5 linked regions of the Homo sapiens genome follow. The protein of the gene in region 1 purifies or fractionates together with the protein of each later gene. This does not show direct contact. Each region holds a gene or a part of one and is shown in the gene's direction. Other genes may lie near its edges. The genes, in order: CCDC12, AQR, YJU2B, GPATCH1 and ISY1.

The links.
Region 2: the proteins of CCDC12 (region 1) and AQR purify together in Homo sapiens (affinity purification with mass spectrometry; one large-scale study listed by BioGRID and IntAct). This does not show direct contact.
Region 3: the proteins of CCDC12 (region 1) and YJU2B purify together in Homo sapiens (co-immunoprecipitation; one large-scale study listed by IntAct). This does not show direct contact.
Region 4: the proteins of CCDC12 (region 1) and GPATCH1 purify together in Homo sapiens (affinity purification with mass spectrometry; one large-scale study listed by BioGRID and IntAct). This does not show direct contact.
Region 5: the proteins of CCDC12 (region 1) and ISY1 purify together in Homo sapiens (affinity purification with mass spectrometry; one large-scale study listed by BioGRID). This does not show direct contact.

The regions. Positions count from the first base shown.
Region 1 is NC_000003.12:46,965,247-46,971,304, reverse strand, and holds part of CCDC12 (coiled-coil domain-containing protein 12), read left to right. Parts: intron 1-6,058.
Region 2 is NC_000015.10:34,870,934-34,876,991, reverse strand, and holds part of AQR (RNA helicase aquarius), read left to right. Parts: intron 1-985; coding exon 986-1,057; intron 1,058-2,127; coding exon 2,128-2,315; intron 2,316-2,992; coding exon 2,993-3,164; intron 3,165-6,058.
Region 3 is NC_000019.10:13,753,401-13,759,458, forward strand, and holds part of YJU2B (probable splicing factor YJU2B), read left to right. Parts: intron 1-888; coding exon 889-942; intron 943-2,796; coding exon 2,797-2,879; intron 2,880-4,017; coding exon 4,018-4,073; intron 4,074-4,385; coding exon 4,386-4,446; intron 4,447-5,467; coding exon 5,468-5,610; exon of another isoform or gene 5,611-5,699; coding exon 5,700-5,872; intron 5,873-6,058. UniProt on the Homo sapiens protein: May be involved in mRNA splicing.
Region 4 is NC_000019.10:33,093,239-33,099,296, forward strand, and holds part of GPATCH1 (G patch domain-containing protein 1), read left to right. Parts: intron 1-120; coding exon 121-281; intron 282-933; coding exon 934-1,031; intron 1,032-2,523; coding exon 2,524-2,582; intron 2,583-2,968; coding exon 2,969-3,208; intron 3,209-4,516; coding exon 4,517-4,664; intron 4,665-6,058.
Region 5 is NC_000003.12:129,153,316-129,159,373, reverse strand, and holds part of ISY1 (pre-mRNA-splicing factor ISY1 homolog), read left to right. Parts: intron 1-197; coding exon 198-220; intron 221-814; coding exon 815-866; intron 867-2,453; coding exon 2,454-2,519; intron 2,520-2,698; coding exon 2,699-2,741; intron 2,742-6,058. Other genes in the region: ISY1-RAB43 protein, read left to right, coding at 198-220, 815-866, 2,454-2,519, 2,699-2,741. UniProt on the Homo sapiens protein: Component of the spliceosome C complex required for the selective processing of microRNAs during embryonic stem cell differentiation. Required for the biogenesis of all miRNAs from the pri-miR-17-92 primary transcript except miR-92a.

The DNA.
Region 1 (6,058 bases):
GGTCAGCCAGTTCCCGTTGACACGCAGAAAGACAGTACTGCTGGGGTTCATTTTCTGGGAAAGCCAGGCAGAGCCTGAGGAAGCTTCATGGGAAGGCAGCATGGAACTTGAGCTGAGCCACGGAGGATGGGGAAGTGGGAGAAGGTCATCGAGGTAGCTGGAAAGGAGAGTGTTCCCAGGGAGCATTTTAGAGGTGGGAACATTCAGGTGCATAGAGGTGAGAGTGGAGATGCTCCAGGGAGTTTGACAGCAAGCACTTGGCAGTGATACAGGGGCAGGGGTACAGTCTGAAAGTGCTGGACTGGGGTACTCTGGTAGCCAAGTTTTGCAAGAGCCAGGGTTTCCAGCAGGGATGGTAGCCAGCCTGGGCACACTTTTCTGTATTGTATTTGAACCTCATTTCCTGATGCTCATCCAGAAGTTCCTGGCTGGGTGAGTAGGTGAACAGTTCAAGGCTGTGTGGATGAAACTCTGGCATCTCTTTACAGTGCTGTCCGGCAGGGCAGTGTGAGGCCACTCTGTCCTCCTTTGACCTCTTTCTTCTTCAGCAGCCAAATGGAGGCTCTCTAAAGGTGATGATTAACTTGGCATAAACATGCCAAGCTTTCCTGAGCGATTGCCCTGAATTGGGCTGTCTCTTGCTGCTCTGAGACAGGGAGACTGGCTGTCTGGCTGACCAGCCCTTGGGGCTGAGGTCTGGCTGTCAAGTTGCAGGTTCCAGGCAACCAGCAATTCCTGGTTGTCACCTGGCTCTAGAGATTAGAGCAGCAGTGTTGCTCACTAGAACTTTGTGCAGTGATAGTGTTCTTTAATCTGCACTGTCTAGTACTGTAGCCATGGGCCACCTGTGACTTTCAAGCCCTTGAAATGTGGCTACCGGCCAGGCACAGTGGCTCATGCCTGTTATCCAGGGGTGTCCAATCTTCTGGCTTCCCTGGGCCACAATGGAAGAAGAATTGTCTTGGGCCACACATAATATGCAGTAACACTAATGATAGCTGATGAGCTTTAAAAAAAAAATCACAAAAAATATCTCATAATGTTTTAGGAAAGTTTACGAATTTGTGTTGGGCTGCATTTGAAGTGGTCCTGGGCCTTGGTCTGCGGGTTGGACAAGCTTGTTATAATCCCAGCATTTTGGGAGGTGGAGGCAGGAAGATCACTTGAGTCCAGGAGTTTGAGACCAGCCTGGGCAATATGACAAATCCCCATCTCCACAAAAAATACAAAAAATTAACCTGGAATGGTGTCGTGCACTTATAGTTCCAGCTACTTGGGAGACTGAGCAGGGAGAATTGCTTCAGCCTGGTAGGGGCAGAGGTTGCAATGAGCTGAGATCACGTCACTGCACCCCAGCCCGGGCAACAGTGTGAGACCCTGTCTCAAAAAAAAAAAAAAAAAAAGAAATATGGCTACTGCGACATTTAATTTTAGTTAGTTTACATTTAAACAGCCACACTTGACTCGTGATTGCCTTATTCGACGGTGCATCTCTGGAGGACTTGCTCCCTTCAGCCTGACTTACAAGAAACTGTGTCTCTACCTGAGCTCCAGTTGTTGAGCGCTAAGGGGCAAGTGGAAACCCAGATGACCATCACATCAGCCTTGGGAGCCCAAAGCTGGGCAGAGGGCTTGGAAGTTGGCCATATTCATGGCTGGTATCTCCATCAGATGCTGATTTGGGGCCATCTGTGTATGTACCCTGTGGAGTTAAGTGCTGGTGATTCAGAGTGGTATAGTTGTGATTTACACACTCAAGAAATGGGAGTGCGGGCCAGGTGTGGTGTCTCACGCCTGTAATCCCAGTACTTTGGGAGGCCAAAGTGGGCAGATCGCTTGAGCTCAGGAGTTCAAGACCAGCATGGGCAACATAACAAGACACCATCTCTACAAATATAAGTAAACAAAATTAGCCGGGCATGGTGGCCCGCTCCTGCAGTCCCAGCTATTCGGGAGGCTGAGGTGGGAGGATTAAAAAACAAACAGAAAGAAAAAAATGCACAGTGCAGAGAGTGGGAGCAATGCCAAGGTAGAAGGCATGCACTAGTACTCTCTGACTTGGGAGTACTAGGGAGGGTCCCTGGCCAGGTTGGGGGAGGGTAAAAGAGGGAACCAGAGGGAGGGGCTAGCAAGTCTTGCTGGAGGAACAGAGGCAGTGGGTGAGAGGCCTAGTATGCTGGGTGAGGAGTCAGACTTGTCCGTGTCCTGATCATGTCTCAAGAAGTTGCCTCTATCTACATCCCATGTGGCCACATCCCCAGGCCCAGCAGCCTGGTTGCAAAGTCAGCCAAGGCGATCACTGCCGCCTGTATTGACAGCTTTTGGCAGGTTGGCAGTCATAACATTTGCGTGGCAGTTGTGGCAGAATCGTGTTCCATCCCTGAAGCAGGACTTTGAAGCAGGGTGTATTGCTTCATCCCTGTCTGATAGACCAGGAAACCCTGGGCTGAAGGAACATCCCACAGTCGTGCTTTGAGTTGTTGCTGACCCTAGATTGTCCCTTAGGCTCTGGCCTTCTATCCCTCTACACCTCTCACCCCCAGGTGCTTGGGAATAAGTACCTCCCGGGAAGGAGCCTCCACCCATCACACATATAAACTGTAACCAGGCTGCCAGGTGGAGGCCTAGTGGTGGAGTGGAGAGAATGGACTTTGGAGACAGATCTGATTTAAACCTCTGCTCCATTAATCGCATCTATGGTACTCAGAGCAAGCCTTGAAAAATCTGAGCCTCTCTCTTGTCTATAAAATCGAGATACAGCTTCTGAACTCATCAGTAGCTAGGAGAACAGAGAAAGATGCTGTCTATGAAGTGTCTAGCTCGAGATCTTGCACACAGGCCTTTTATAAACGTGGATGCCTGTCCTTTCTTCTTTACCCTCTTGTAAGTGGGGACATCCAGGTGGTCCTGCAGCCTTCTCCGCTGGGTGACAGTGGGTGGAACTGGCCCGGTTCCAGTGGAAGCAAAGAGGTCCTTCTCCTGCACCCTGGCTTTACTCATCCTAGCCCTAATTTTTTGAAGATGGAGTGTTAGTGCAAAGTGTTAGATTAAGAAGAAAATGGATTTGCAGTCACAGCCGAGGTGGAGTGTGAGTGCCCGTTCTTCCTAAGGACTCAGCTTTTCTGCCCAAGCTCTCAGACTCCAAGGTTGTGGAGGCAGTGAGAGGGAGAATCTTCTGGGTGGGAGATTTGGGGTTCCCAACACATACCTATGGTGAGCCAGCATTTCCTTCTGAGGCCCTCAATATGTTCACGTATGAAATGATGGTGTTGGATTTATCTGAGTTTCTCAGACCTACCTGTTCGTTGGGTTGTCTTGAGAGACAATTTGCAGTCCTTTTTTCTGGCCCTACCTCAGACCTATTGTGGTCTTGGTATATAGCCTATAAATTCATGCATTCTTAAAGTTCCCCAGGTGATTCTGATGAATTTTTCTGGACATCTCTGATCAGTCCCTGGCATTCTCTCATTGGAAGAAGGATACTTTTTTTTCCCTTGGAACCTTAGCTGCCCATGCTCACTGCAGGAACTCTGCAGCTAGCCACTAATAAGTATTTATTGAGTACCAGCTGTATGACAGGCCCTGGGGATACAGCTATGAACAAGACTTCCTCCTTGCCTCAAGGGGCTTCTATGGAAGGAGTGGGAATACTTAGAAACAAGGAACATGGTGTCCCTGTTTATGTGTCCCAGGAACTTGGGAATGTGGTGTGTGTGTTGGGGAGAGGCTGTGCAGCTGCCCAGGCTGGGAAGACCACCACCTGGGAGTTCTGAGACGGGGATGGAGGAGTGAGATGCCAAGATCTAGGGAAGAGCATTCCAAGCTGAGCAAGACTAGCTTGGCATGTTTGAGGAGTAGGAGTAGAGTGAACAGTGGGAGGTATGGAAGGGGGATGAGGGTGGAGAGGGCCTGGGAGGCTGGGCTAGTTAGAAGGGGGCCTTGCAGACCACCAAGGCTGGACCTCAGGCTAAGGGGGTTGGGGAACCACTGGAGGTCTGAGCAAAGCTGACATGCCCTTGGATGACTGTGTGTGGAGGTAGGAGGCAGCTGCAGGAGCCCAGGTGTGAGGCAGTGCGCACAGACAGGGTTCCTGAGATGGCAAAGTACAGGGGAGAGGGGCTTTGAAGGGGAAGGCAAGAGTCTGGCTTTGGCCACATTAAGCCAGAGATGACTGTTAGACAGGTAAGCGAAGAGAGACATAAGCAGGCATCTGGACTAGAAACAGATACAGGATATCAAGCCCTGGGGCTAGACGAGGCCCTCTGGTGACAGAGCTTAGACCACAGAGACAGAGGACTGGGAGATCATTCTGTGCCCTGAGGCTCGCTCTGCAGGTATTTAGCAGGAGTTAGAAGAATCCAAGGAAACTTGGTGGGGTGGGGCGGCATGAGGACAGTGGGGCTGAGAGAAGCCAGGCGAAGACTGGGGATGGGTTTTGGCAAGACAAGGTGATAGGTGAGCTTGGTCCAGCTGTTTCAGGGAAGTGTGTGGTGCCAGTGGAATCCAGGCCAGCTGGGTTGAGGTGCAGCATGCTGGCCAAAGCCTTCCTGTAAATTAAGCCTCCTTTCCACTGCTTGAAGTCCTCACTGGACCCCAGCCGGGACATCCATCCCTCCTCTCAGGAGGGTAGCGCCAGTCTGAGGCAGTGCCCTTATAGCCTTGCTGTCTGAACTCACCTGGTGTTTGGATGCTGGCAGCCTTCTTGCTAGTGCTCAGGTCTTCATATTGCCACTCTAGCAACTCTAGCCCTTTTCTTTCGTTCTTTCTTTCTTTCTTTCTTTTTTTTTTTGAGACAGAGTCTCACTCTGTCGCCCAGGCTGGGGTGCAGTGGCGCAGTCTCAGCTCACTGCAGCCTCTGCCCCGCCCCGTGCTCAAGCCGTTCTCCTGCCTCAGCCACCTGAGTAGCTGGGATTATAGGTGTGTGTCACCGCGCCCGGCTAATTTTTGTATTTTTAGTAGAGATGGGGTTTCGCCATGTTGTCCAGGCTGGTCTCAAACTCCTGGTCTCAAGTCGTCTCCCTGCTTTGGCCTCCCAAAGTGTTGGGATTATAGGCGTGAGCCACCGTGCCCAGCCCGCTTTCTTTCTTTCTTTCTTTTTTCAACCTGGGAGCACAGATTCAAGTTGCCGTAAATGTACACTCCCCCCTCCCCTGTCCTTTCTGTCCCTGCACGTAGGTCCTGAGGGCTGCACTGCAGCTCCTACAATATGACCACTGCTTCTGGGTCAGGCTGGCCGTTTCTCTCATGATTCCCTGCTCTCTGGACAGGTTGCTTTGCCCACCTGGCTCCGCCACCCTGCTCACCTTGGGATGTGTAGATAGGTAAGTCTCTTCACATCCTTTTTAGCTGGAAGATGGCCACAGTACCTCCTCCCTCCCAGGATAAGGGTTAAGTGAGATGGTGTGTGCAGAAGGGAGCTGAGAGGTGGGAAGTGTGATGTGTGCATTTATTCTTTCTCCTATACTCTTATTTTACCTCTGGTTGAGGGCCCCTTTAACTTGTACCTGAGACACCACAGATGTGGAGAAGTAAGGGACCAAACACAATCACACAGGGCCAATCCCTTGTCCTCTGGAGATGGAGCCAGAGGGATGGGCCAGGGAGCCCACCGCCTCCTGGCCAAGTTTGGGGGTGCTCTTCCTCTGGGATAGAATTGGTGCTGCCCTCATCCCTTGGAGCTTTGCAAGGAGGGGCTCTGCAGTGAGCTACAGGGAAGAGAATGGGACCCCGTTCAGTTTGGTCTGATATGCTGGGGAGAAACACCTGGCCTGGGCGAAGGGTGAGCCTCTCTCTGGATTTCCCTCAGAGGGCACGGTTTCCATCGAGGCAGATGGGTGGCTATTCAGGATCCTTCACGGTTTAGCTCACCTGTGGTGGCTGAAGCACCCTCCATGTAGCAGAAGAGGCACTAGACAGCCACAAGACAAGGTTCCTCTTTCTTGCTGTGCCAGTGACACAGTTGTTCCGCCACAGTCTCCCGTTTGGTTGACTTCTGTGGTATTACAAGGTGTAAGTTGTGTTCCCCAGGCCTCACTGATAGGGGGCAGGGAATTGGAAA
Region 2 (6,058 bases), on another chromosome or scaffold:
AGAACAGTACTTCAGTACTTTGAGATCAGTTTTAGATTGGGAAGTCACAGAAGGCCTAGATAAAGTGGCTTTTAAGCTGATATTTTAAGGATGAGAAAGAACCAACTAGACTAAAAGTGAAGAGAATAGCATGTGCAAAGGGCCTGAGGCAGGGAAGGTTTTGCCATTTCCAACAAACTGAAATGGGTCATTGTGGTTGAAGCTTAGTGAGTAAGGAGAAAGATAAAGTACAAGAGGAAGTCAGGGACTAGATTGAATATAGGTTCTTGGTAAATACATCCTTGCTGGCAATATTGAGGGATTTTTTTCACTTAAACAGTGGTGTGAAGGATTTGAAATAAGGAGTTGTATAAGTGCCTTAGAGGAGTCAAGACAGGAAGAGGAGGAACTAGTAAGGAGTTTGCTATCCGTAGTCATAGTGGTGGCTTGGATTTTTAGAGTGGTAGTGCTGGTAGAAATAAAGAAAAATGAATAGACTCAAGAGTTTTGAAGGTAAAATTGACATGCTCTGGTGATGGATTGAATGCCCAGGGGTGAGACTGAAGTGAATTGTTGTGATGGGTAGGATTCATATAGGAAAAAAAATTATCCCAAAATGCTACCAGAGTAAGAGTACCAAAGGGAAAGACTTCATATATAATTATAAATTGATGCTTTCTGATGTAGAAATAAAGAACTAAATTGAAAAGAACCAAACTGGCATTGCAATTCAAGAAATGATATACAAGATCTTTTCAATGTAAAGTTGTATATTTAGGCGGCTTTCCTGAAGTCAAATACTTGAATTGGAAATGCAGAGGCATAATGATAAGTAAGACCATGAAGTTTCTGTTTGAATAATGTGTATGTTGTTATTTTTATCTGTCTGAATAATTTGTATGTCGTTTTTATCAGAAATTATTTGGGGTTTTTTTGATGATTATGTTTATGATGGTAGTTGTTTGACTTTTAAGCTGTCTTTATGACAAGATTTCCTCTTTCTTAGTATGACAACATTTTGATGGAAGAGGCTGCTCAGATTCTGGAGATAGAAACTTTTATCCCTCTTCTTCTACAGGTAAGAAATATAAGATCTGAGGCAAAGAAAATAGAGTTCTAAGAATGCTGAGGACAGCATCAGAAAGTTGTACAGTTTGGGTGTGCTGATTGCCATAGTTATGTATTTTCCTTAACTTCATTATGTTTGGTATTCTATTTTAAGCCTGTAAACTTTCTTGAATCTATTCACTGGCTATTTAGTAGTTGTTTTGCTTCGAGAAGTACTATTTAAAATTTCATAGTCTATTTCTGTAGTTTTGAAAAGATTTAGTAATTTTAATCAAGAAAATTACATTGTTGTGCAGTTTGGTGGGAAGATGAGCTGTTTCTTCATTTCTTTTGTTATAATTGTTTGTAGAATTATTTTTTTCATTTTCACTGAGTGCATTGCTTTTCTTTATGCCTAAGTTTTTGAGCTAAATTGTGCTATTTAAGAATTTTTTTACTGTAAAATATTCTTTACTATTGAAGCATTAAAAACAAAATGTGGAATTCCCAACTTAAGGATAGAGACCACTCTAATATGCAGATAAATTGAGTTCCAGAAGTTGTTTTTATAAGTGAAGCTACTTGGAACTTGGAATGTATTCTATCAGGATATGTTTCAAGGAACTAGGAGACATATAGAGTAGGAAATTGAAGTAGTAGTGTAGATAATTAAAGAAGGTAGTTTTTACTGCTTTGGTGGGTTCAGAATTGGTCCTCAGCTAATTGTGAAACATGTTTATTTCGCATCTTTCCATTTCTCTTCTTGGGCTTCTGTTTCTTTCTGTGTGCTCGTTACCTAATGCCTGACCTAATCCTTCCAGCCTTCTTTGGATTACCCTGCCTATTAAAGTAGGGTAATTCCATGCTTGCCTTCTAAATACCTCCATTCTCCCTCACCCACTGTCACCCAGGAGCAATAACGTCCATAATTGGTTCACAAATTGTTCTGTAAATTTGCTAGACTCCTGTTTGTGGAGCTGGTAAAGTTTGGTAATTTGTAAGATAAGGAAGCTGTTTGATGAAGACTGAGTCTCTCGGGTAATAAATTGGAGACAAGAGGATAATAGAGTATTTTGCCATTTCCTTACTTTTCATTTCTAGAATCCTCAGGATGGATTTAGCCGACTAAAACGATGGATTATGATTGGCGATCATCACCAGTTACCTCCAGTTATTAAGAACATGGCCTTTCAAAAGTACTCAAACATGGAGCAGTCTCTCTTCACTCGCTTTGTTCGCGTTGGAGTTCCGACTGTTGACCTTGATGCTCAAGGGAGAGCCAGAGCAAGGTAAAAGAGACAGGAAAAAAAATCATTCCCATTTAAGGACATTTGTTCCATGATCCAAGTATTTGTGAATAGCTTTTGTGTAGACTATTAGCATTCTTGGCTATCCAGGAACTTGGCTATCCATAAATCCAAAAGCACTTTTGTCGACTTCTGCAAGAGATGTGAATGGACCAAATAATTTATTTCCTTCATTTCATTCATTAATATTAATTTAAGTAACTTATAATCTAAAGGCTTCTTTTCATTGTCCCTTCTCCTTTCTTCATGTCCCCAAAAGATATACAGTTAATATAATTTTAAAATCTAAAAATAAAGTGAACAAGAGGAGAACACACCAATTCTTACTTCATAAAGGATGCAGGCCCCATCTCATAGTTACCCCCAAATGTCCTCAATTTTTAGTCTTCCTTGATTTTTTAATTTAAGGGATAAAGATAGCATTGACCTCAGAGAGCGTAATAGAACTCTCATTTTTGTAGTACCTTCAGTCTTCTGACCCTTGGTTACTTGAAGTAGGGAAGCTAAGGTTGAAAGAGCATTATTGCTTAAAAGATGAGCCAAAATGGCTAACATGAAAATTTAAAAGAAGCACAGAAACAGAAACCTCCTTATGTATATTAAAAGAGATTTTACACTGCTAATATTTTCTGTTTGTGGGGGAATTTGTCTTTGGAAAGCTTGTGCAACCTCTACAACTGGCGATACAAGAATCTAGGAAACTTACCCCATGTGCAGCTCTTGCCAGAGTTTAGTACAGCAAATGCTGGCTTACTGTATGACTTCCAGCTCATTAATGTTGAAGATTTTCAAGGAGTGGGAGAATCTGAACCTAATCCTTACTTCTATCAGGTAAGAAAAAATAGGAAGCTTATAAGTTTATTTTGCATTTGCTGGCTGACATATGCCTAAATCAGTGATACTTAACCATTTGGCCGTTGAGAAAAGGAAAGTTGGAACCCCACCTTACACATAGCATATGAAAAATCGATTTCAGATTGATTAAAAATACATGCACTAAAGAAACTAAACAAACTAGAAACTACTAGAAGAAAATATTAATGAATATACAGTGTTGGAGTGAGAAAGGTCTTCCTAAGCTTGTTACAAAAGCAGAAATCATAAAGAAAAATAGCGATTGGAGAAAAGATTTATTTTCAGTATTTAAAATTTATTTCAATATTTAACAAACAAGTTGAATTCTGAATATATTTATAGAACTCATAAATTGTTTTAAAAAATCAAGACTAACAGGAAAATATGAATATGCAATTCATATTTTATAACAAGTATAAATCACTGAATTACATTTTCACTTCTATAACAATGCTCAGTGTTGGGATAGGTTTGGGGAAACTTTATTCTCATACAATGCTAGTAGGAAAATAATTTGGTGGACAAATTGTCAGCATGTATGAAAAGCAATGTTCTCACATCTAGGAATTTATCCTAAAAAAATAATTGGGCAAGTTTGGAAAGACTTGTATGCTTCATGTTCATCACTGCAAATTATTCTGGAAATGAGAAACAACCCAAATATCTGTCAGTAGGGATTAATTGCATTATTACATATTCCATATAAAAGAAATACTAGATAGCCACTAAGAATGATAACATTGTATTTACTAACAGGAAGAATGTTTATGCTATATTAAGTGGAAAAAAGTTGCAAAGTATATCTACAGTATCTCATTTTAAAAAGGAGCTGCAATACATACATATAGAAATACATACAGATAATCTATACAAAATGACCTGGCAGCATATACATCAAAATATAGTCTTTGGTTGGTAGCATTTGGGGTTATTTTAATTTTTTTCTTTTTTTCTCTCTCTCTTTACAGCAAAATATCCAATATAGGTTGTTATACAAATTAGAGATCTTGAGTTATTCATGAAAAAGCATCATTTATCATCAGCTTAAATGTGTATGCATAGATGTAACTCATGCAGATCTTATTGTCCCTCCAAATATTTGGTTATATTAAATCAAGTTACTCTATTTGTGTACTTAATGCCTGAGAACAGATGTGACCTTTAAATGATAACTTTAAAAATATTAGAACCTAGTTCAAATCAGTGATGTTTCCTAATAGCCACCTTAGAAATTAATTATTCTATCAGTAATCAACTGATGTTTTCATTACATATTGGTTTTTTGGAATTTCTTCTTTGAGTCAGTTTCATTGCCTGAGTCATACTGTAGTATTGATTGAAACATTTTTATCCAGATTGGTTACCTGTTTTTCTTATTCATTAAGCCTAACTCTAGATGAGTTTTTAGCGATTCAAGAAATAAATATATTTTCAGATGATGATTTGCCACTATTAAATATATTTCTGGAGAGTTGAAAACACTGTCCCCCAAAATAAGAATACTATGCATTTAAGTGATAACATTTGAAGAATTAGTGTCGAGAGGGAAAGACTAGGTGGATAAATGAATAAAAGTCACTAATTTGAAGGGGACTTGACTCATTTGGAGCGAGTTCTAAAATGTTTGGTCACAATACAGTTCATGTTGTTTTATTGTTAATGCTTCATGTCTAACCTTTGGGCAAAGTACCAAATTGGGCAGTGTTAAAGAACTAGAAAACTTAAATGAACTTGTAACTCAAGCTGTGCGTCACAAAGAACCAGAATATAAATGATATTTTTAGAAGTCTTCCAGTAATCTTTCGGTTGCCTTTGCATGAAATCCAGCTTCCTTTTTTTTTTTTTTTAAATATTGTGTTTATATTCTTATTTTACTTTCTTCTTTCATCTAGTACTTTGGATTTAGTCTCTACTGAACTGGACCAAAGAGCTTTGTGTGTGGTTCCTCACCTTTAAGTTGAATAAGCCTTAGTTTTAAGCTCCTTTCTAGTCTGTAATTTAACAGTAAACCAGACTGACCAATTTGCGGTCACATCCTCATCCCACCTAAAGTGATCTAGTAGAAGTGACAACCATTACGCAGAGAACAGAAACAAAGCATACAAAAAACATTAAGAAACATGAGGAAGGAGGAAAAGCACTGTGCAAAAATTGAGTCAATTATAATACTGCTAGGTGTATTTGCTATTAAACTGGGTATTGTATTGGCTTCTTAGTTACTTTGTTCCTTTATAGTTTTGTGTCTGTGTAACTACAGTTGTGGCACATTGTATAGAATTTTTTTTTTTTTTTTTTTTGGAGATGAGATCTCACTTTGTCACCAGGCTGGAGTGCAGAGGCACGATTGAAGCTCGCCACAACCTCTGCCTCCCAAGCTTAAGCGATCCCCCCACCTCAGTCTCCAGAGTAGCTGAGACTATAGGCATGCACCACCATGCCCAGCTAATTTTTGTATTTTTAGTAGAGACAGGGTTTCACCATGTTGTCCAGGCTGGTCTCAAACTCCTGGACTCAAGTGATCTGTCTGCCTTGGCCTCCCCAAGTGCTGGGATTACAGATGTGAGCTACCATGCCTGGCCAGAATAGTATTAATCTATATTGTGATTGTTATGGTCTTAGGAATATTAAGCCTTTAAGTTGGTAAGTTTTATTTTAGGATTGTTCCATGTATTGCAAATTAAAAGTTTGTATTTATCACTGTTAATGTAGCATAAAATTATCCCTCAGTTTTATGAAAGGTACTCACTTATCCAAGTTACTAAGTCTTCACTTCTTGCAGTGTGCAAAGTGAACAAGTTTTGCTTATCTAGATGAGATATTTTCTCTATAAAATTGAAACAAAAGCAAATGAATGCACAGTCTGATTATGT
Region 3 (6,058 bases), on another chromosome or scaffold:
GTCTGTACTAAAAATACAAAAAAATTAGCTGGGCGTAGTGGCACATGCCTGTAATCCCAGCTACTCGGGAGGCTGAGGCAGGAGAATTGCTTGAATCCGGGAGGCGGAGGTTGCAGTGAGATGAGATCGCACCATTGCACTCCAGCCTGGGCAACAAGAGTGAAACTCTGTCTCAAAAAAAAAAAAAAAAAAAAAAAAGACATACTCAAGCCTGGGTAATTTATAAAGGAAAGAGGTTTAATTGACTCACAGTTCAGCATGGCTGGGGAGGCCTCAGGAAACTTAACAATCATGGCAGAAGGGGAAGCAAACACATCCTTCTTCACGTGGCAGCAGCAAGAATGAGCAAGAGGAAAAGCTCCTTGTAAAACCATGAGGTCTCTCGAGAACTCATTCGCTGTCATGAGAACAGCATGATTCGCCCCCATGATTCGATTCAGTTACCTCCCACCAGGTCCCTCCCATGACACGTGGGGATTATGGGAACTACAATTCAAGATGAGATTTCGCCTGTAATCCCAGCACTTTGGGAGGCTGAGGTGGGTGCATCACTTGATGTCAGGAGTTCAAGACCAGCCTGGCCAACATGGTGAAACCCCATCTCTACTAAAAATACAAAAAATTAGCTGGGCGTGGTGGTGCATGCCTGTAATCCTAGCTACTCAGGAGGCTGAGGCAGGAGAATCGCCTGAACTCGGGAAACGGAGGTTACAGTGAGTCAAGATCGCACCACTGCACTCCAGCATGGGTGACAGAGCAAGACTCCATCTCTAAAAATTAATAGTAAAATAAAAAATCAGAAAAAATTTTTTTGAATGAGATTTGGGTAGGGACACAGCCAAACCATATCAGCCTCTCTCTGAGTCATGTCTCTGTTCTGCTTTGCAGGGTGAAAGGAAAGGGGTCAACAAGTACTATCCTCCAGACTTCAACCCTGAGAAGGTAAGCAGGCTCTCCGCTCCAGGTCCACAGTAGCAAAAAGACCCACGTCATCCCCTCTTGGGGTTAGAGCCACTGCTGCGGAAGGATGGGTGGCCCCCAAGGTCTTTTTGTCTTCTGCATGTCACCTGAGTCTCGAGGCTGTCTTCACTTTTGGGTGATAACTGTGGCTCTCCTCAGGGACCTGTAACTCCATGTCCACACTATACTAGAGTATAGTGTGTTTACAGCAGGGGCCCAGGATAAGGCAGAGCGCACAGATGAAGGGTCAGATCCCATGGCTTCCCCAGCTCCAGCACCTGTGGCGTCCTGGTTGTCCCCTCTGCCTGGAATCTCTTCCTCCATTTCACCATACTCTCACTTCCTTAAGTGCTTTTCTCACAGAGGTCCTCCCTGACCACTGTCTCGTTCTCTGTTGCATTGCTGAGCACTTTATATAATCTCATAGCCCTTATAACTCCCTCACTTATTCATTTATTTGCGTCTTGTCCATCTCCCCCGCTAGAACATTCTCTCCCTGAAGGCAGAGATGTTCATCTATCTTATTGTGGCTGTGTCCCCACACAGTAGGTGCTCAGTAAGGGCCCAAGTGTCCCAGCTGCCTCGTCCTGAGTATAGGATTTAGCCTCTCTATGCCAAAGTTTCTCCATACGTCAGAAGGGGGAAATAAAATGAGCTGACCTCACAGAATCATTGAGGGATAAATCCTAGCTACTCAGGAGGCTGAGGTGGGAGGATTGCTTGAGCCCAGGAGGTGGAGACTGCAGTGAGTCATAATCATACCACTGCACCCCAGCCTGGGCTACAGAGCCAGACCCTGCCTCAAAAAAAAAAAAAAAAAAAGCCGGCGCCATGGCTCACGCCTCTAATCCCAGCACTTTGGGAGGCCAAGGCAGGTGGATCACCAGGTCGAGAGTTTAAGACCATCCTGGCCAACATGGTGAAACTTGATCTCTACTAAAAATACAAAAATTAGCTGGGCGTAGTGGCCCACACCTGTAGTCCCAGCTACTTGGGAGACTGAGACAGGAGAATCGCTTGAACCCGGAAGGCGGAGGTTGCAGTGAGCCGAGATCACGCCACTGCACTCCAGCCTAGTGACAGAGCGAGACTCTGTCTCAAAAAAAAAAAAAAAAAAATAAGGTGATGCACATGAAGTCCCCAGCGAATGTTTGCCAGTCTTGTCACCTCACCTCATCTTCCCCATAAAACCTGGAAGTAATAATGACCATTATACGTAGTTGACAGACAAGGGAAACAGAGGCTCGGGAAGGCAAAACGTGAGGTCACTCGCCCAGGGTCCCCTGGCTCTTTCAGCTCATAAATGGGAACAGGGCTGGGCGCAGTAGCTCACACCCGGAATCCCAGCACTTTGGGAGGCCGAGGCAAGTGGATCACCTGAGGTCAGGAGTTGGAGACCAGCCTGGGTGACATGGTGAAACCCCGTCTTTACTACAAATACAAAAAAAATAGCCGGGCGTGGTGGCAGGCGCCTGTAATCCCAGCTACTTAGGAGCCTGAGGCAGGAGAATCACTTGAACCCGGGAGGCAGAGGTTGCAGTGAGCCAAGGTCATGCCATTGCACTCCAGCCTGGGCAACAAGAGCAAAACTCCATCTCAAAAAATAAATAAATAAATAAGAGAGGGACTATTCAAACTCACGTTCCTGGTTCCAAGCCTACATGTTCCAGTAAGACCTGGATGCCCCCTATTGCTATGAACACCCGTCCTGCAGGACATAAGAATCAAGGCCTCTCCCACCTGTGAGACACTTGTCCCAAAGCAGTGGGGGTGGCAGAAAATTGTGAGCTCCTCCAGCTCAGCAGCACTAATCCGCTCCTCATCCTCTCCACACAGCATGGCTCTCTCAACCGATACCACAACAGCCACCCGCTTCGGGAGCGGGCTCGGAAGCTGTCACAGGGCATCCTCATCATCCGGTAAGGCCCAGCATCACCTGAGGACCCCACCGTCCTGCCCCATTCCTTCAGTCTCAAGGAGAGTTCAGTGCCCTCATTGGCCCAGTGCTGCAGGGTCTTCATTCCATAAAGCAGAAAGTCACCGTATCAGTCAGTTATTGCCGTGTGACAAAACAATAAGCATTTATTATTGCTCACATGTCTGCAGCTCAGCAAAATATCTCTGCTGGGCTTGGAAGAGCTTGGCTGGGCTGGGCTAGGCTGGCCTGATCTGGGCTGGGCTCCCATGTGTTTCAGAGTTGGCTGGCTGGGGACTGGCTGGTTTAGCAGGGACTTGACCTGTACAGCTGGGCTCTGCTCCGTGTTGTATCTCAACCTGTAGCAGGCCAGCCTGGACTTGATCACATAGGACTCTCAAAAAAGACAGTGATCGTAGTTGGGCACAGTGGGTCACGCCTGTAAACCCAGCACTTTGGGAGGGTGAGGCAGGTGGATCACTTGAGACCAAGAGTTCGAGAGCAGCCTGGCCAACACAGTGAAACCCTGTCTCTACTGAAAATAGAAAAAATTAGGCTGGGTGCGGTGGCTCACACCTGTAATCCCAGCTCCTCGGGAGGCTGAGGCAGGAGAATCACTTGAACTAGGGAGCTGGAGGTTGCAGTGAGCCAAGACCATGCCACTGTACTGCAGCCTGGCAACAGAGCGAGACTCCATCTCAAAAAAAAAAAAAAAATTCGCCGGAATTGGTGGCGCACACCTATAATCCCAGCTACTTGGGAGGCTGAGGCATAAGAATTGCTTGAACCCAGGAGGCAGAGGTTGCAGTGAGCCAGGATCGCACCACTGCACTCTAGCATGGGGAACAGAGCAAGACTCTGTCTCAAAAAAAAAAAGTCGCAGCAGCACCCAAAGGCGGCTGTCCCTGGACCTGGTCAGTCTGCTTTCTAGCAGGCAGGAAGTTCCTGCTCAGTTACAATGGTTGTGATTCTTTTTCTTCCATATATCCATTTCCTGTGTAATGTGAGTGCAGCAACTCCCGTTAACAGGGCAGTCTAATACCCCACCCCTCAAATCACAACCGCGGCCAGAGTCGCAGGTGTGGAGACCCAGGGAGTGTCCAAGTGGACAAGTGCAAGTAAGATGCTGTCTGTCTTTGCAGATTCGAAATGCCATATAACATCTGGTGCGATGGCTGCAAGAACCACATCGGCATGGGTGAGCCTCTGCCCACCCTCCATTCAGTCCTGCAAACATCAGACCCCCTAACTGCTGGATGCCGCCGGGGTGGGGGTGGGAGGGTCCTGATCAGGAATGAGGGAGGAGACGGGCACCCGAGTGACTGGCTGGCCATGGAAGCCCCTTTGCAGAGGGATTAGGAAGCCAGGCTCTGGCTTCCAATCCCGTCTCTAACTCCTCCTAGTTGGGGAACCCTCAGCAAGTGACAGTGAGCCTCTTTGTACCTCATTTTACCCATCTGCAAAATTCAGATGGCAATGAAATTACCACCCCCGCCTGACCCCCTTCCAGGTGTTCGTTACAATGCAGAAAAGAAGAAGGTGGGCAATTACTACACAACCCCGATCTACAGGTAAGGGCGGCTTGGTGGCATCTTGGGAACAGGTGGGGTGGCCACAGGGCGAGGGGGCTACAAAGAGCCTGAGTTGCGGGGGGAACCCATTCCCTGCAGGACTCCTGGAAATCGCCCTGGTTGGTGAATCAGGGCACACCCCACCCCCGCAACCCTCCATGGCTCCCACCTTCCTCAGTAAAAGCCCAAGTCCTCCCCCTGGCTCACAAGGCACCACACACTCTGCCTGTCCTTTCTTCACCCTAACCTCCTCCTGCTGTCCCCCTCCCTGGCCTCCTCGTTGTCCCTCACACACCCCAGGGACACACCCACCTCTGTGCTTCCACCTGGAATGCTCTTCCCCAGGTAGCTCCAAGGCTCCTCCCTCACCCGGGGTTTCTGCTCAAACAGCACCCCTCAGAGACACCTTTTCTAAAGTGAGACTTGACACTGGTTGCTTGTGCCCTTGCTATCAAGGTGGGCCCTGCTGGGACGTCAGCCTTTCCATGAGCAAGTTGGCTTTTCCACTACTCAGCAATTTCCCCAGCAGCTGGCACTGAGCCTGCCACAGAGCAGCCTGTCTTGGGCGGGTTTGTTGAATAAATGAACTAGTGGACAAATGAATGAACAAATGAATGAACAGAATGAACAAATGATAAGTGAATTAACAAATGGATGGATGAGCAAATGAATGTATGAATTACTTTAACAAATGAATCAGTGAACCAACAAACAAATGCACTAATGAATGAACAAATGAATTAACGAATAAATGAACCAAAAAAATGGATGAGGGAATGAATGAATGAACAAACAGCTGAATGAACAAATGAATAAGCCAACTGCAGCCCCACTGACAGAAGGTCCGTTCTGGGTGCCCGGATGTGCCCCTTTTTGCCCGTGGCTCTACACGGCACACAGTGGGTGCTCAGTGAATTTTTGTCAAATGACACCATTGGGTGGAAGGAAGCAGGCAGAGGCGACAGGGCTGTCCTGGTGCACAGCCACAGCCTCCTGACTCCTGCCCACCGCTCCCTCCCAGGTTCCGGATGAAATGCCACCTCTGTGTCAACTACATCGAGATGCAGACGGACCCCGCCAACTGCGACTACGTGATCGTGAGTGGCGCCCAGCGCAAGGAGGAGCGCTGGGACATGGCGGACAATGAGCAGGTGCTGACCACAGGTGAGCGCCACCCACTTACCTGCCTGGGGGCCCTGGCCCTGAGTCTGCGCTGGGGCCCCCAAAGCCCAGCCGAGCTCTGATCGTTGCAGAGCATGAGAAGAAGCAGAAGCTGGAGACGGACGCCATGTTCCGGCTGGAGCATGGCGAGGCCGACCGCAGCACACTCAAGAAGGCGCTGCCCACACTGAGCCACATCCAGGAGGCCCAGAGCGCCTGGAAGGACGACTTCGCCCTCAACAGCATGCTGCGGAGAAGGTTCCGGGTGAGGGGGGCTCCAGCCCGGGGTCAGAGAGGATGCATGGTGGACCAAGGCCCGGGTCCAGCCCTCCCCCCACCACATCCTAGCTTTGAGCAGGCCACTGTACCCTCTGAGCCTCAGTTTCCCCATCTGCTACATGGTGACCATGCCCTGTCTTAATCCATTCTGGCTACTATAATAAAAAATACC
Region 4 (6,058 bases), on another chromosome or scaffold:
GCTGATCCAGAACTAAATTTTGTAGTTTTAACTTTTTTTTTTTAACAGAAATAAAACTATGTGATGTATTGTGTATAGTCACTTTCCAAATAATGTAATTCTGTTTGAATTTTTTTGAAGGATCTTAGTGAATTTGGGATAGCACCTAAAGCGATTGTCACCACAGACGATTTTGCCTCCAAAACCAAAGACAGAATACGAGAAAAGGCTAGGCAGTTGGCCGCTGCTACTGCCCCTATTCCTGGAGCCACCCTCCTTGATGACCTCATAACGCCAGCAAAGTGAGCATTTCCTTCTGACTGTCATGATCTTAGCACCGGTGTTTTGCATATGTGTGATTCTCTTGCTGAGGGATAGTTTGATTGCAAGTGAGACAAGCCTTCTTAGGCTCAAAGTCTAAGTGAAAAAGGGGGTTTTGCGTAAAGGATCTTGCACTGTCATTGCACGGAGAGATTAAGAACTCCAGCCACTAGCTGTGCTGCTGGGGCTCTCAGAGGCTGGAGAGCTGTTAGGAATTACAGTGACTTCTCCCACCACCCCTCCAGACCTTATAGCCTCGCCTCTGTCTGCCTCCTTCTACCCTCACTTTCTGTGTATCTCCTTGTGCTCCTGGGCTTGTGGCCTGATATGGCAGCCTTAGACCTTCAGGGATTCCCAGGCCACATGCTTAGCAAAGACTGTCTAGAGTCCCTGTGATCCCATCGTAAAGGCCCAGGAGAAAGGTCATCTGATTGACTTCCCCAGTTCAGGTGTGCACCCCAGTGCAGCCTGCTGTGGCTGGAATGGCAGGGTCACGCCAGATGTAATGTGGGTGAGGGCAAGGGCCCAGGCAAGACAGGCCTAGGAACTGAGCAGGAACTCAGAAGCCGCTTATTTCATATTCTTTGTTAATGTTATTTTGAAAAGTTCATTTTCAATGCCTTGCTATCCTAGATTATCTGTTGGTTTCGAATTGCTAAGAAAAATGGGTTGGAAAGAAGGACAAGGAGTTGGTCCTCGAGTAAAGAGACGGCCACGCCGACAGAAACCTGGTGTGTATGTTAATTGATTAACTGTTATCACTGCTGCAGCGTACTTTTTTTTTTTTTTTGAGACAGGGTCTTGCTCTGTCGCCCAGGCTGGAGTGCAGTGGTGCGATCCCGGCATACTGCAGCCTTGACCTCCCGGGCTCAAGTGATCCTTCCACGTTAGCCCCGCAAGTAGCTGGGACCACAGGCATGTGCCACTGCGCCAGGCTAATTTTTTGTATTTTTTGTAGAGACGGGGTTTTGCCATGTTGCCCAGGCCCAGGCTGAGGATTGCCTGAGCAAATTCCAATAAACGAAATAGCTGGGCCCAGTGGTATGTGTGTCTTCTAAGGCTTTTTATGTGTAATGCATGACAGCTTCCAGAAAGGCTGTGCTAGTTTATGCTTCTGCCAGCAGCATGTGAGAGTTCATGTTTCCTACCCTCCCCCAAGCTGTCACAGTTTAACATTATTACTTGTTCCTTATTTCTTGCCCTGAGTCTCCCCAGCCAGACTGTAAGTGACTCTTTGAGGGTAACAGTCATTTCTTTTGGGTTCCTTATGCTGTGGGGCAGTATTGGTTACTCATTGAGCACATTACTGCTAGGTAGGGCAGGTGCTGGTAGAAAATGATTCCTGGCTGGGTGCAGTGACTCATACCCATAATCCTGGCACTTTGGGATGCTGAGGTGAGATTATCTTTGAGCCCAGGTGTTTGAGACCAGCCTGGGCAACACGGTGAAACCCTGCCTCTACCAAATATACCAAAATTAGCCAGGTGTGGTGGAGCGCACCTGTAGTCCCAGCTACGACTCAGGAGAGTGAGGTGGGAGGATGGCTTTAGTCCAGAAGGTTGAGGCTACAGTGAGCTATGATCATGCCACTGTACTTCAGCCTGGGTGACAGGGCGAGACCCTGTTTCTAAAACAATTCCCAGTTATCTTCCTCTCACCGTAATGCTGTAGCACATTTTATAAATGTACCCATGTACCTCTGAAGAGTTATCAGTGAGGTTTTTTTTTTTTTTTTTTTTTTTGAGATGGAGTTTCGCTCTTGTTGCCCAGGCTGAAGTACAATGCGCGATCTCGGCTCACTGCAACCTCTGCTTCCCGGTTCAAGCGATTCTCCTGCCTCAGCCTCCTGAGTAGCTGGGATTACAGGCTTGCGCCACCATGCCTGGCTATTTTTTTTGTATTTTTTGTAGAGACGGGGTTTCTCCATGTTGGTCAGGCTGGTCTCCAACTCCCGACCTTGTGATCCACCCCGCCTCAGCCTCCCAAAGTACTGGGATTACAGGCATGAGCCGCTGCGCCCAGCCTTTTTTTTTTTAAATTTTTTGTGGAGGCGGAATCTCACTATGTTACCCAGGCTGGTCTTGAACTCCTGGGCTCAAGCGATCCTCTCACCTCAGCCTCCCAGAGTGCTGGGATTACAGGTGTGATCCACCGCGCCCGGCCTGGTCGGGGTTTTCTATTTGTAGTCACTCATGACTATTGCATTTGAAATCTCTTTTCTAGATCCTGGAGTCAAAATCTATGGCTGTGCATTACCCCCTGGAAGCTCGGAAGGATCTGAGGTATTGCATGGTGTGACTGACCTTCACTTTGGTACAACAGCACCTGTTTCTGTATGACTGTGAAATTTGGTTGGAGACAATTTTAGAAATCAGATCCAATAACTATACAGTTAAATACTCATACCCTAAAGCTATCCTCATTATATCAGCATACATATTCAGCAACATGCCAGCACCACAGATACCCAGGTCTGTTCAGCTTCATAAAATGGAGTTGGTGTTAGCATCCTTTGTGCCAGAAAGTGATTTAGTCATTTATAACAGCACCAATGAAAGTTTGCTAATTGTTCTGTGTGGCATTAATCACTGCGTTTTCAATTAGTATTTTGTGGGTTTACTTTGCATCCTTCAGTGACTCACCTTAATTCCACTTTAAACGGAAATAGGGTGAAGATGATGACTACTTGCCTGATAATGTGACCTTTGCACCCAAAGATGTCACACCTGTGGATTTCACACCTAAAGATAATGTGCATGGTCTAGCTTACAAGGGCCTGGATCCCCACCAGGCACTGTTTGGAACTTCGGGAGAACATTTTAATCTTTTCAGTGGTGGTTCTGAGAGAGCTGGCGATCTTGGAGAAATTGGACTGAATAAAGGAAGAAAATTGGGAATTTCAGGCCAGGTAAAATTATTTTCTATTTTATAAAGGGGGAGTCATTGATAAATGAGTCTACTTTCTTTCTTTCTTCTTTTTAGAGGTTCTTTATTTTCTTTTTTTTTCCCCCTAATCCTCAAGTGGAATCAGGTCAAAGATTCTTTCTTAAAATGCATTTTTAAAATGGTGACTTTGCCATTTCATTATTACCATTTCTGTTTTTTTTTGAGACGGGGTTTCGCTCTGTTACCCAGGCTGGAGTGCAGTGGTGCGATCTTGGCTTACTGCAACCTCTGTCTCCTGGGTTCAAGTGATTCTCCTGCCTCAGCCTCCTGAATAGCTGGGATTATAGGCATGTGCCACCATGCCCCACTAATTTTTGTATTTTTAGTAGAGACGGGGTTTCACCATGTTGGCCAGGCTGGTCTCGAACTCCTGACTTCAGATGATCCACCTGCCTCGGCCTCCCAAAGTGCTAGGATTACAGGCATGAGCCACTGCGCCTGGCCACCTTTTCTTTCTTTCTTTCTTTCTTTTTTTTTTGAGACAGAGTTTGACTCTTGTTGCCCAGGCTGGAGTGCAATGGCGCGATCTCGGCTCACCGCAACCTCCACCTCCCGGGTTGAAGCGATTCTCCTGCCTCAGCCACCTGACTAGCTGAGATTACAGGCATGCGCCACCACCCCGGCTAATTTTGTATTTTTAGTAGAGATGGGGTTTCTCCATGTTGGTCAGGCTGGTCTTGAACTCCTGACCTCAGGTGATCCACCCGCCTCGGCCTCCCAAAGTGCTGGGATTACAGGCGTGAGCCACTGCGCCCGGCCCACCTTTTCTTTTTATAAACGTGTTTTTTTTTCAGTCTTTTAAACAAAAATGCTACTTGTTAGAGGCTCCTTTCCGCAGAGAGTAGGAGTTCTTCCAGCGGGCAGTAGAGTAGCAGCGGCCCTTAGACCCCAGCCACCAGCGTTGGCCCAGGCCGCATTGATCAGTTGATGAACATTTCTTCCTTTCTCCTCTTGGAAGCCACATTTCCACCCCTGCACTGCTGCTTGGCTTTGTTCTCCACTCCTCTTCCTGTGCTGGGACCTGGAGCCATGGCTGTTGTGGGGACTGGAGGGCAGTGTTGGCAGTAGGGACATGGCATTCACCTCTGGTCACTGTTTTCCAGAAAACTTGTGTGTGTGTTGGTCGATCTGGGACCCCCGTTCACTTCTCTCTTGGTGATCTTGAAGTGCTAACATGGTTTCCAATCACATCCTTAAAGTAGCTTTATCCCTGAAGATCCCAGACATACCCTAACACCTGTGCTCAGTTTGAAACCTTGTTTTTTTAAAGGCTTTTGGTGTAGGTGCCCTGGAAGAGGAAGATGATGATATCTATGCCACAGAAACTCTATCCAAGTATGACACTGTTCTGAAGGACGAGGAGCCTGGAGACGGACTCTATGGCTGGACAGCACCCAGGCAGTATAAAAACCAGAAAGGTAATTCGACAGCCACAAACCTAATGGCAGGACCAAGTGTCAGGGTATCAGGAAGGAGGGGCTGCAAGAGCGATACAGGAGCACCAGCCTCTGTTGTTGGTCAAAGTCACGGTAAGAAACAAAACAAAGAAGCGAGGCCCAGCATGGGAAGTGAAACAAATGCAGGATTCAGACCTGGCCAAGGCCAAAGCCAGCTGTCAAGGTGGGGCCCAGGTGGGAGGGAGGGAGAGGTCTGTAATCAGGGAAAGAGGAATGCCTGGACCAGTGACCACATGGCTGGTCAGAGCTGGCAGTGGGTCAAAGGGAAGCACCCAGAGCTCGAGGAACTGGGCAGGTGGCCAAAGGAGGCCAACACATGCAGCAGGTCAGAAGGTCAAGCCAGGGGACCAGGAGGCAGGTACACCAACAGCCTGCAGCAAGATGGAGCTGGGCGCCCAGTCCGTCTTCTCCCTTGAGTCCCTGGCTCTGAGGAGGCTCTTGTTGGGATAAGAGGCTGACATCTCTCAACACAACTTTAACTTCATGCTGTGTTGAAATTTCAAGGTGAATCAGATCCTGTGGTTTGAAGTCACATTTCAGTTGTTTCCAGAAAAGGTGCAGGGCCAGACAGTGTAGAGTCGGTATTAGCAGCATGTGATTTGGAGTCAGTCAGACCTGGGTTTGGATGCCAGCTCTCCATTGCCCAGCTTTGTGACCTTAGGCAAGGCTCATAACCTCTCTGGGCATTGGAGTCCACATTTGTAAAGTGAGGATAAAATCCACTCCAGAGGTGGTTGTGAGGATTAAGTGGCATAACTCAGTGTCTGGCAAAGCACCTGTCCCAAAGACTGAAGAAGTGGCACCTACTATTCTTTGGTTATCATACAGTCATGTGTCACTTGACTGGGATGGTATGACAGGGAACCCAGGGTTTTACACAGGACACTGGAAGGGCATGTGTACCCAGTGTTAGGAGACTTAACCTCCGGGTGGTCAGTGGGCTGCTAGTACTTACTTCCTTTTTTTTTTCCTTCCAATGTTTTTCTTTTTTTTTCCCCTGAGTCATTTAGCTTCTGAGCCTTCTTCCTTTTGCCTCCCTATAGTTTCTGATTTCTGTCCCCAAACTATGGATTATTTTTATATAACTTAAATGAAGATATATTAATATATCATAATATACTATTTAATTTTAATACTATATTATAATCAATATACCATTATATATTGTATATGATTTATATTTTATATAATTAATATATCAATACTATTGGTATATTATGTAACATACCAATACATTATTACATAGTAATGTATTGATCTATTTTAATTATTCATTATTTATTAAAAGTGGTGGGAGTATGAAATTGATAATATCCTATATCTGTTAATATAAATGATATTTAATATACAACATA
Region 5 (6,058 bases), about 82 Mb from region 1:
GATTTTAAGTAGAGGGAGGAGCAGCCTTGGTCACAGGATTTGGACATCTTTTGATTTTTGTTTATTGTTGTTCATATAGTACTTCAAGTGGTTTGCTTGTGATTGTATTCTTGTAAAACTTTTCACTAAAAAGTAAAGGGCAAGAAAAAAATATATTTTAAACATGGACATTTTTCTTCTCTTTTCTCTCTTTCCAGGCCCGAAATGCAGAAAAGGCCATGTAAGTATCAACTTGTTTTTGGCTGTAAATTTTTTGTAACTTAAAAACCACCATGTAACTCTTTGTGTATTTCCTCTTTTTGGTATCTGAGCCTTTTGAGAAGCTGTTTCTTTCTTTACATATGTTATGTTCTTACATATGCAAAAACATTCCTGTTTTTGCCCATTTGTTTTCTCCATTTATGTGTTTTCTCACAGTTTCCAGAACTTAAACACTGGATGAACATTTGTTCACCTGTGGTTGGTGCAGGGGTTGTGAGAGTGACAGCCAGGGAACACACCATGATGTTAGTCTTTTAACACCTGGATGTATTGCTTATCACAGTGGTCTGATAAGTAGAGTTTCCCACAGTCCTTATGTGTAGTGTAAGTAAAATAGATTCTTGGGTGTTCAGGAATACAAATTGCCTCATAATTCCTACTCCTGAGAACATGGAAATCCCTAACTATTCTGTGGTTTCTTAATTACAATATTTGTATATGAATGACATTAAATATGGTCATAAGCAGATCTACCCCATACAGGAACATGGGTAATGAGAAGTCTGTATGAGCAGGATCTAATGGAGTCTTTTATCTTTTATATCGCTGGTAGGACGGCCTTAGCAAGATTTCGCCAGGCTCAGCTGGAAGAGGGAAAAGTGAAGGTTGGTGTAAATCTTCCTCATGAATTGTAAAGTATCAAGAATAAATGCAGGCTGGGTGCAGTGGCTCATGCCTGTAATCCCAATACTTGGGGAGGCTGAGGTGGGTGGATCACTTGAGTCTAGGAGTTTGAGACCAGTCTGGGCAACATGGCAAAATCCCTTCTTTACAAAAAATACAAAGATTAGCCTAGCCAGGCATGGTGGCGCCTGCCTGTAGTCCCAGCTACTGGGGAGGCTGAGGCAGGAGAATCACTTGAATGCAGGAGTCTTACACTGCAGGGAGCCATGATCATGCCACTGCACTCCAGCCTGGGTGACACAGTGAGAACCTGTCAAAAAAAAAAAAAAAAGTAGGGTGCAGTGACTCACGCCTGTAATCCCAGCACTTTGAGAGGCTGAGGGGGGTGGATCACTTGAGGACAGGAGTTTGAGGCCAGCCTGGCTAACATGGTGAAACCCCATCTCTACTAAAAATACAAAAATTAGCTGGGCATGGTGGCAGGCACCTGTAATCCCAGCTACTTGAGGCTGAGGCAGAAGAATCACTTGAGCCCTGGAGACGGAGGTTGCAGTGCACCGAGAGCGCGCTGCTGCACTCCAGGTCAACAGACTTCAAACTTCAGAATTTCCTATTTCTTATCTGTACCTGCTGACGCTCTTGAGAGTCTGTACACTTGAATTCCAATACCTCCCCATAGCTGAGGCAGGGTGATGGATCTGGCTGCTTGTTTTTCAGTTTCTTCTGTATTATGATGACTGGGCCCGGCCCTTTTTTTTTTTTTTTTTTTTTTGAGATGGACGCTCTGTCGCTCAGGCTGGAGTGCAGTGGCGTGATCTTGGCTCACTGTAACCTCCAACTCCCTGGTTCAAGCAATTCCCCTGCCTCAGCCTCCTGAGTAGCTGGAATTACAGGCACATATCACCACACCCAGCTAATTTTTTTGTATTTTTAGTAGAGATGGGGTTTCACCATGTTGGCCAGACTGGTCTCAAACTCCAGGCCTCAGGCAATCTGCCTGCCTTGACCTCCCAAAGTGGGAATTACAGAGATGAACCGCCGTGCCCAGCCTGATGACTGGGTCCTTTATTACTCCAGCTCTAATATTGAATAGGGACTGGAGTATGATGTGGAGAACAGCTGTAAGCTGAAACCGGTAAATTATTTCATTTCTTAGAGACTCACCCAAATTAGAGATAATATATACCATTCTTTGGATTTTTTTTTTAATTTTATATACGCACATGTATATGAATACACCCATATTTATGTATGTTTGTTTTAAACACTGATAGACATTGTTTCTTAAGGTACTATAAATATGCCATGAAATAGCTATAACCTAGTTTGGCTGTCTCTCTATTGCAGGACAGTTAAGTTCTTTCCAATATTAAATACAATGCAATCAATGTTTTTCCTAAGGAGAGATTGTAGAATGAGGTTTAAGGCTTGATGAGGATCATCTGGAATGAAAACTTCAAATGTTTTTAGGCCATTAGATGATTTAGGCTTAAGGCCTGAATCAGTTCTGAATGTTGTTTGAAACTTGTAAATAGTATAATGGAAATGTGTTATTTTTTTCTCCTTAGGAACGAAGACCCTTTCTGGCCTCAGAATGTACTGAACTGCCTAAAGCTGAGAAGTGGAGACGACAGGTATGTTCTGGGTAAATCTGATTTCAGTAGAAGTAACAAGTCTCTCATTTCTTCTTATTATCTAAATGACTGTTAGACCAAAAGTCTAAGTATTTTTAAATACTAATTTTGAATTATAGTTTTTCTGTGCTTTCTAACATATTCAAAAATTATTAAAATGTATTACTTTTTTTTAATAGATCATTGGAGAGATCTCTAAAAAAGTGGCTCAGATTCAGAATGGTAAGCAAACTTGTTCCTTTAAAGTGCTTGATTCTCAAATCCACAATTAGACTTGAGGACTTCAATACTCCTTTCAAAATAATCAATAGAGCAAGTAGATAGTAAATCAGTAAGGACATAGAAGAGCCAATCAATACGATCAGTCAGTTTGATGTAGTTGAAAGTTGTAGAATACTCTGTCTCACAACACTGTACCTAACAATAAAGAATACGTCATTTTTTTTTTTTTTTTTTGAGACAGAGTCTCACTCTGTCACCCAGGCTGGAGTGCAGTGGTGCGATCTCGGCTCACTGCAAGCTCAGCCTCCTGGGTTCACGCCATTCTCCTGCCTCAGCCTCCCGAATAGCTGGGACTACAGGTGCCCACAACCACGCCCGGCTAATTTTTTTGTACTTTCAGTAGAGACAGGGTTTCACCATGTTAGCCAGGATGGTCTTGATCTCCTGACCTTGCAATTCGCCCGCCTCAGCCTCCCAAAGTGCTGGGATTATAGGTATGAGCCACTATGCCCGGCCTAATACATGGTCTTTTTTAAGAGCACGTGGAACATTCACCAAAATAAAACATATTCTGGGCTGCAGAACAAATGTTAGCAAATTTAAAATATTTGAGGCCGGGCGCAGTAGCTCACGCCTGTAATCCCAGCACTTTGGGAGGCCGAGGAGGGAGGATCACCTAAGGTCTGGGGTTTGAGACCAGCCTGACCAACATGGAGAAACCCCACCTCTACTGAAAATACAAAATTGGCTGGACGTGGTAGCGCATGCTTGTAATCCCAGCTACTTGGGAGGCTGAGGCAGGAGAATCGCTTGAACCTAACGGGCGGAGGTTACAGTGAGCCAAGATCACACTATTGCATTCCAGCTTCAGCAACAAGAGTGAAACTCCATCTCAAAAAAAAAAAAAATTGAAATTACACAGAGTATTTTCTCTGATTATAACAACAGATTCATATCTGAAAAATTCCTAAATATTTGGAAATTAAACAACATATTTGTAAATAATTCATGTGTCTGAGAGGAAACAGCAAAGAAATTAGAAGATATTTTGAATTTAATTAGAGTGAAAACGTAATGTCAAAATTTAGGGGATGAAAAAATTTATGGGATATAGTGCTTAGATAAAAATGTATAGCACTGGCCTGGTGCGGTGGCTCACACCTGTAATCCCAGCACTTTGGGAGGCCGAGGCGGGTGGATCACGAGGTTAGGAGATAAGAGACTATCCTGGCCAACATGGTGAAACCCTGTCTCTACTAAAAATACAAATATTAGCTGGGTGTGGTGTCATGTGCCTGTAATCCCAGCTACTCAGGAGGCTGAAGCAGGAGAATCGCTTGAACCCGGGAGGCGGAGGTTGTAGTGAGCCAAGATCGTGCCACTGCACTCCAGGACTCCATCTCAAAACAAACAAACAAACAAACAAACAAAAAATACATATATAGCACTGAAATAATAGAAAATTATGAAAGTTTTCAAATCAGTGATCTAAGCTTCTACCCTGTGAAATTAGAAAAGAAGAGCAAATTAAACCCAAAGCAAGCAGAAGGAAGGAAATAGTAAAGATAAGAAATCAATAGCATTGAAAACAAGATGAATAGAGAAAACAGACCAACAGCTGGTTCTTTGAAAAGATCAATAAAATTGCTGGGCGTGGTGGCTCACGCCTGTAATCCCAGCACTTTGGGAGGCCGAGGCGGGCGGATGACGAGGTCAGGAGATCGAGACCATCCTGGCTAACACGGTGAAACCCCGTCTTTACTAAAAATACAAAAAATTAGCTGGATGTGGTGGCAGGCGCCTGTAATCCCAGCTACTTGGGAGGCTGAGGCAGGAGAATGGCATGAACCCAAGAGGTGGAGCTTGCAGTGAGCTGAGATCGCGCCACTGCACTCCAGCCTGGGAGACAGAGCGAGACTCTGTCTCAAAAAAAAAAAAAAGATCAATAAAATTGATAAACTTCTAGTCAGACTGACCAAGAAAAAATATACACAAATTAAGAATATTAGGAACCAAATTGGGAATATTACTATAGAATCTATATACATTAAAAGGATAATAAGGAAATATTACAGACAATGTTATGCCCATAAATTTGACAACTTAGATGAAATAGGTCAATTCCTTACAAGACACAAACTGCCAAAGCTCACTTAAGAGAAGTGGTCCTTTTTTTTTTTTTTTTTTTTTTTTGAGATGGAGTCTTGCTCTGTCACCCAGGCTAGAGTGCAGTGGCGAGTTCTCGGCTCACTGCACTGGGTTCAAGCAATTTCTCCCTGGGTTCACCTCCCTGGGTTCAAGCAATTTCTCCTGCCTCAGCCTCCCGAGTAGCTGGGATTACAGGCACCCTCCATCATACCTGGCTAATTTTTTTTTTTTTTTTTTTTTTTGAGACAGAGTCTCGCTCTGTCACCCAGGCTGGAGTGCAGTGGCGCCATCTCAGCTCACTGCAGGCTCCGCCCCCCGGGGTTCACGCCATTCTCCTGCCTCAGCCTCCCGCGTAGCTGGGACTACAGGCGCCCACCCCCTCGCCTGGCTGATCTTTTGTATTTTTAGTAGAGATGGGGTTTCACCGTGTTAGCCAGGATGGTCTCGATCTCCTGACCTCGTGATCCGCCCGCCTCGGCCTCCCAAAGTGCTGGGATTACAGGCGTGAGCCATGGCGCCCAGCCAAATTTTTGTAATTTTTTAGTAGAGACAGGGTTTCACCATGTTGAACAGGCTGGTCTTCAATTCCTGACCTCAGGGGATCCACCCTCCTCGGCCTTCCAAAGTGCTAGGATTACAGGTGTAAGCCACAGTGCCTGGCCGAGAAATAGTTCATTTTGTTTTGTTTTGTTTTGTTTTGAGACAGAGTCTTGCTCTGTTGCCCACACTGGAGTGCAGTGGCATGATCTTGGCTCACCGCAGCCTCTGCCTCCCGGGTTCAAGCGAATCTCCTGCCTCAGCCTCCTGAGTAGCTGGGCCTACAGGCGCCCACCACCATGCCCAGCTAATTTTTTTTTGTATTTTTAGTAGAGACGGGGTTTCACCATGTTAGCCAGGATGGTCTCGATCTCCTGACCTCATGACCTGCCCACCTCACCCTCCCGTAGTGCTGGGATTACAGGCTTGAGCCACTGCGCCCAGCCCTGAAGAAATTTTTGATTGTTACAACTGGAAGGGTGCTACTGGCACATAGTGGGTAGAGGCCAGGGATGTGCTAAGCCTCCTACAAATAATTATCCTAAATAAACTACAGTGTCAATAATTCTACTGTTTAGAGACACAGTTCAAAAAGAAATGGTAAACCTGAGTAGTCCTATATCTGTTAAAGA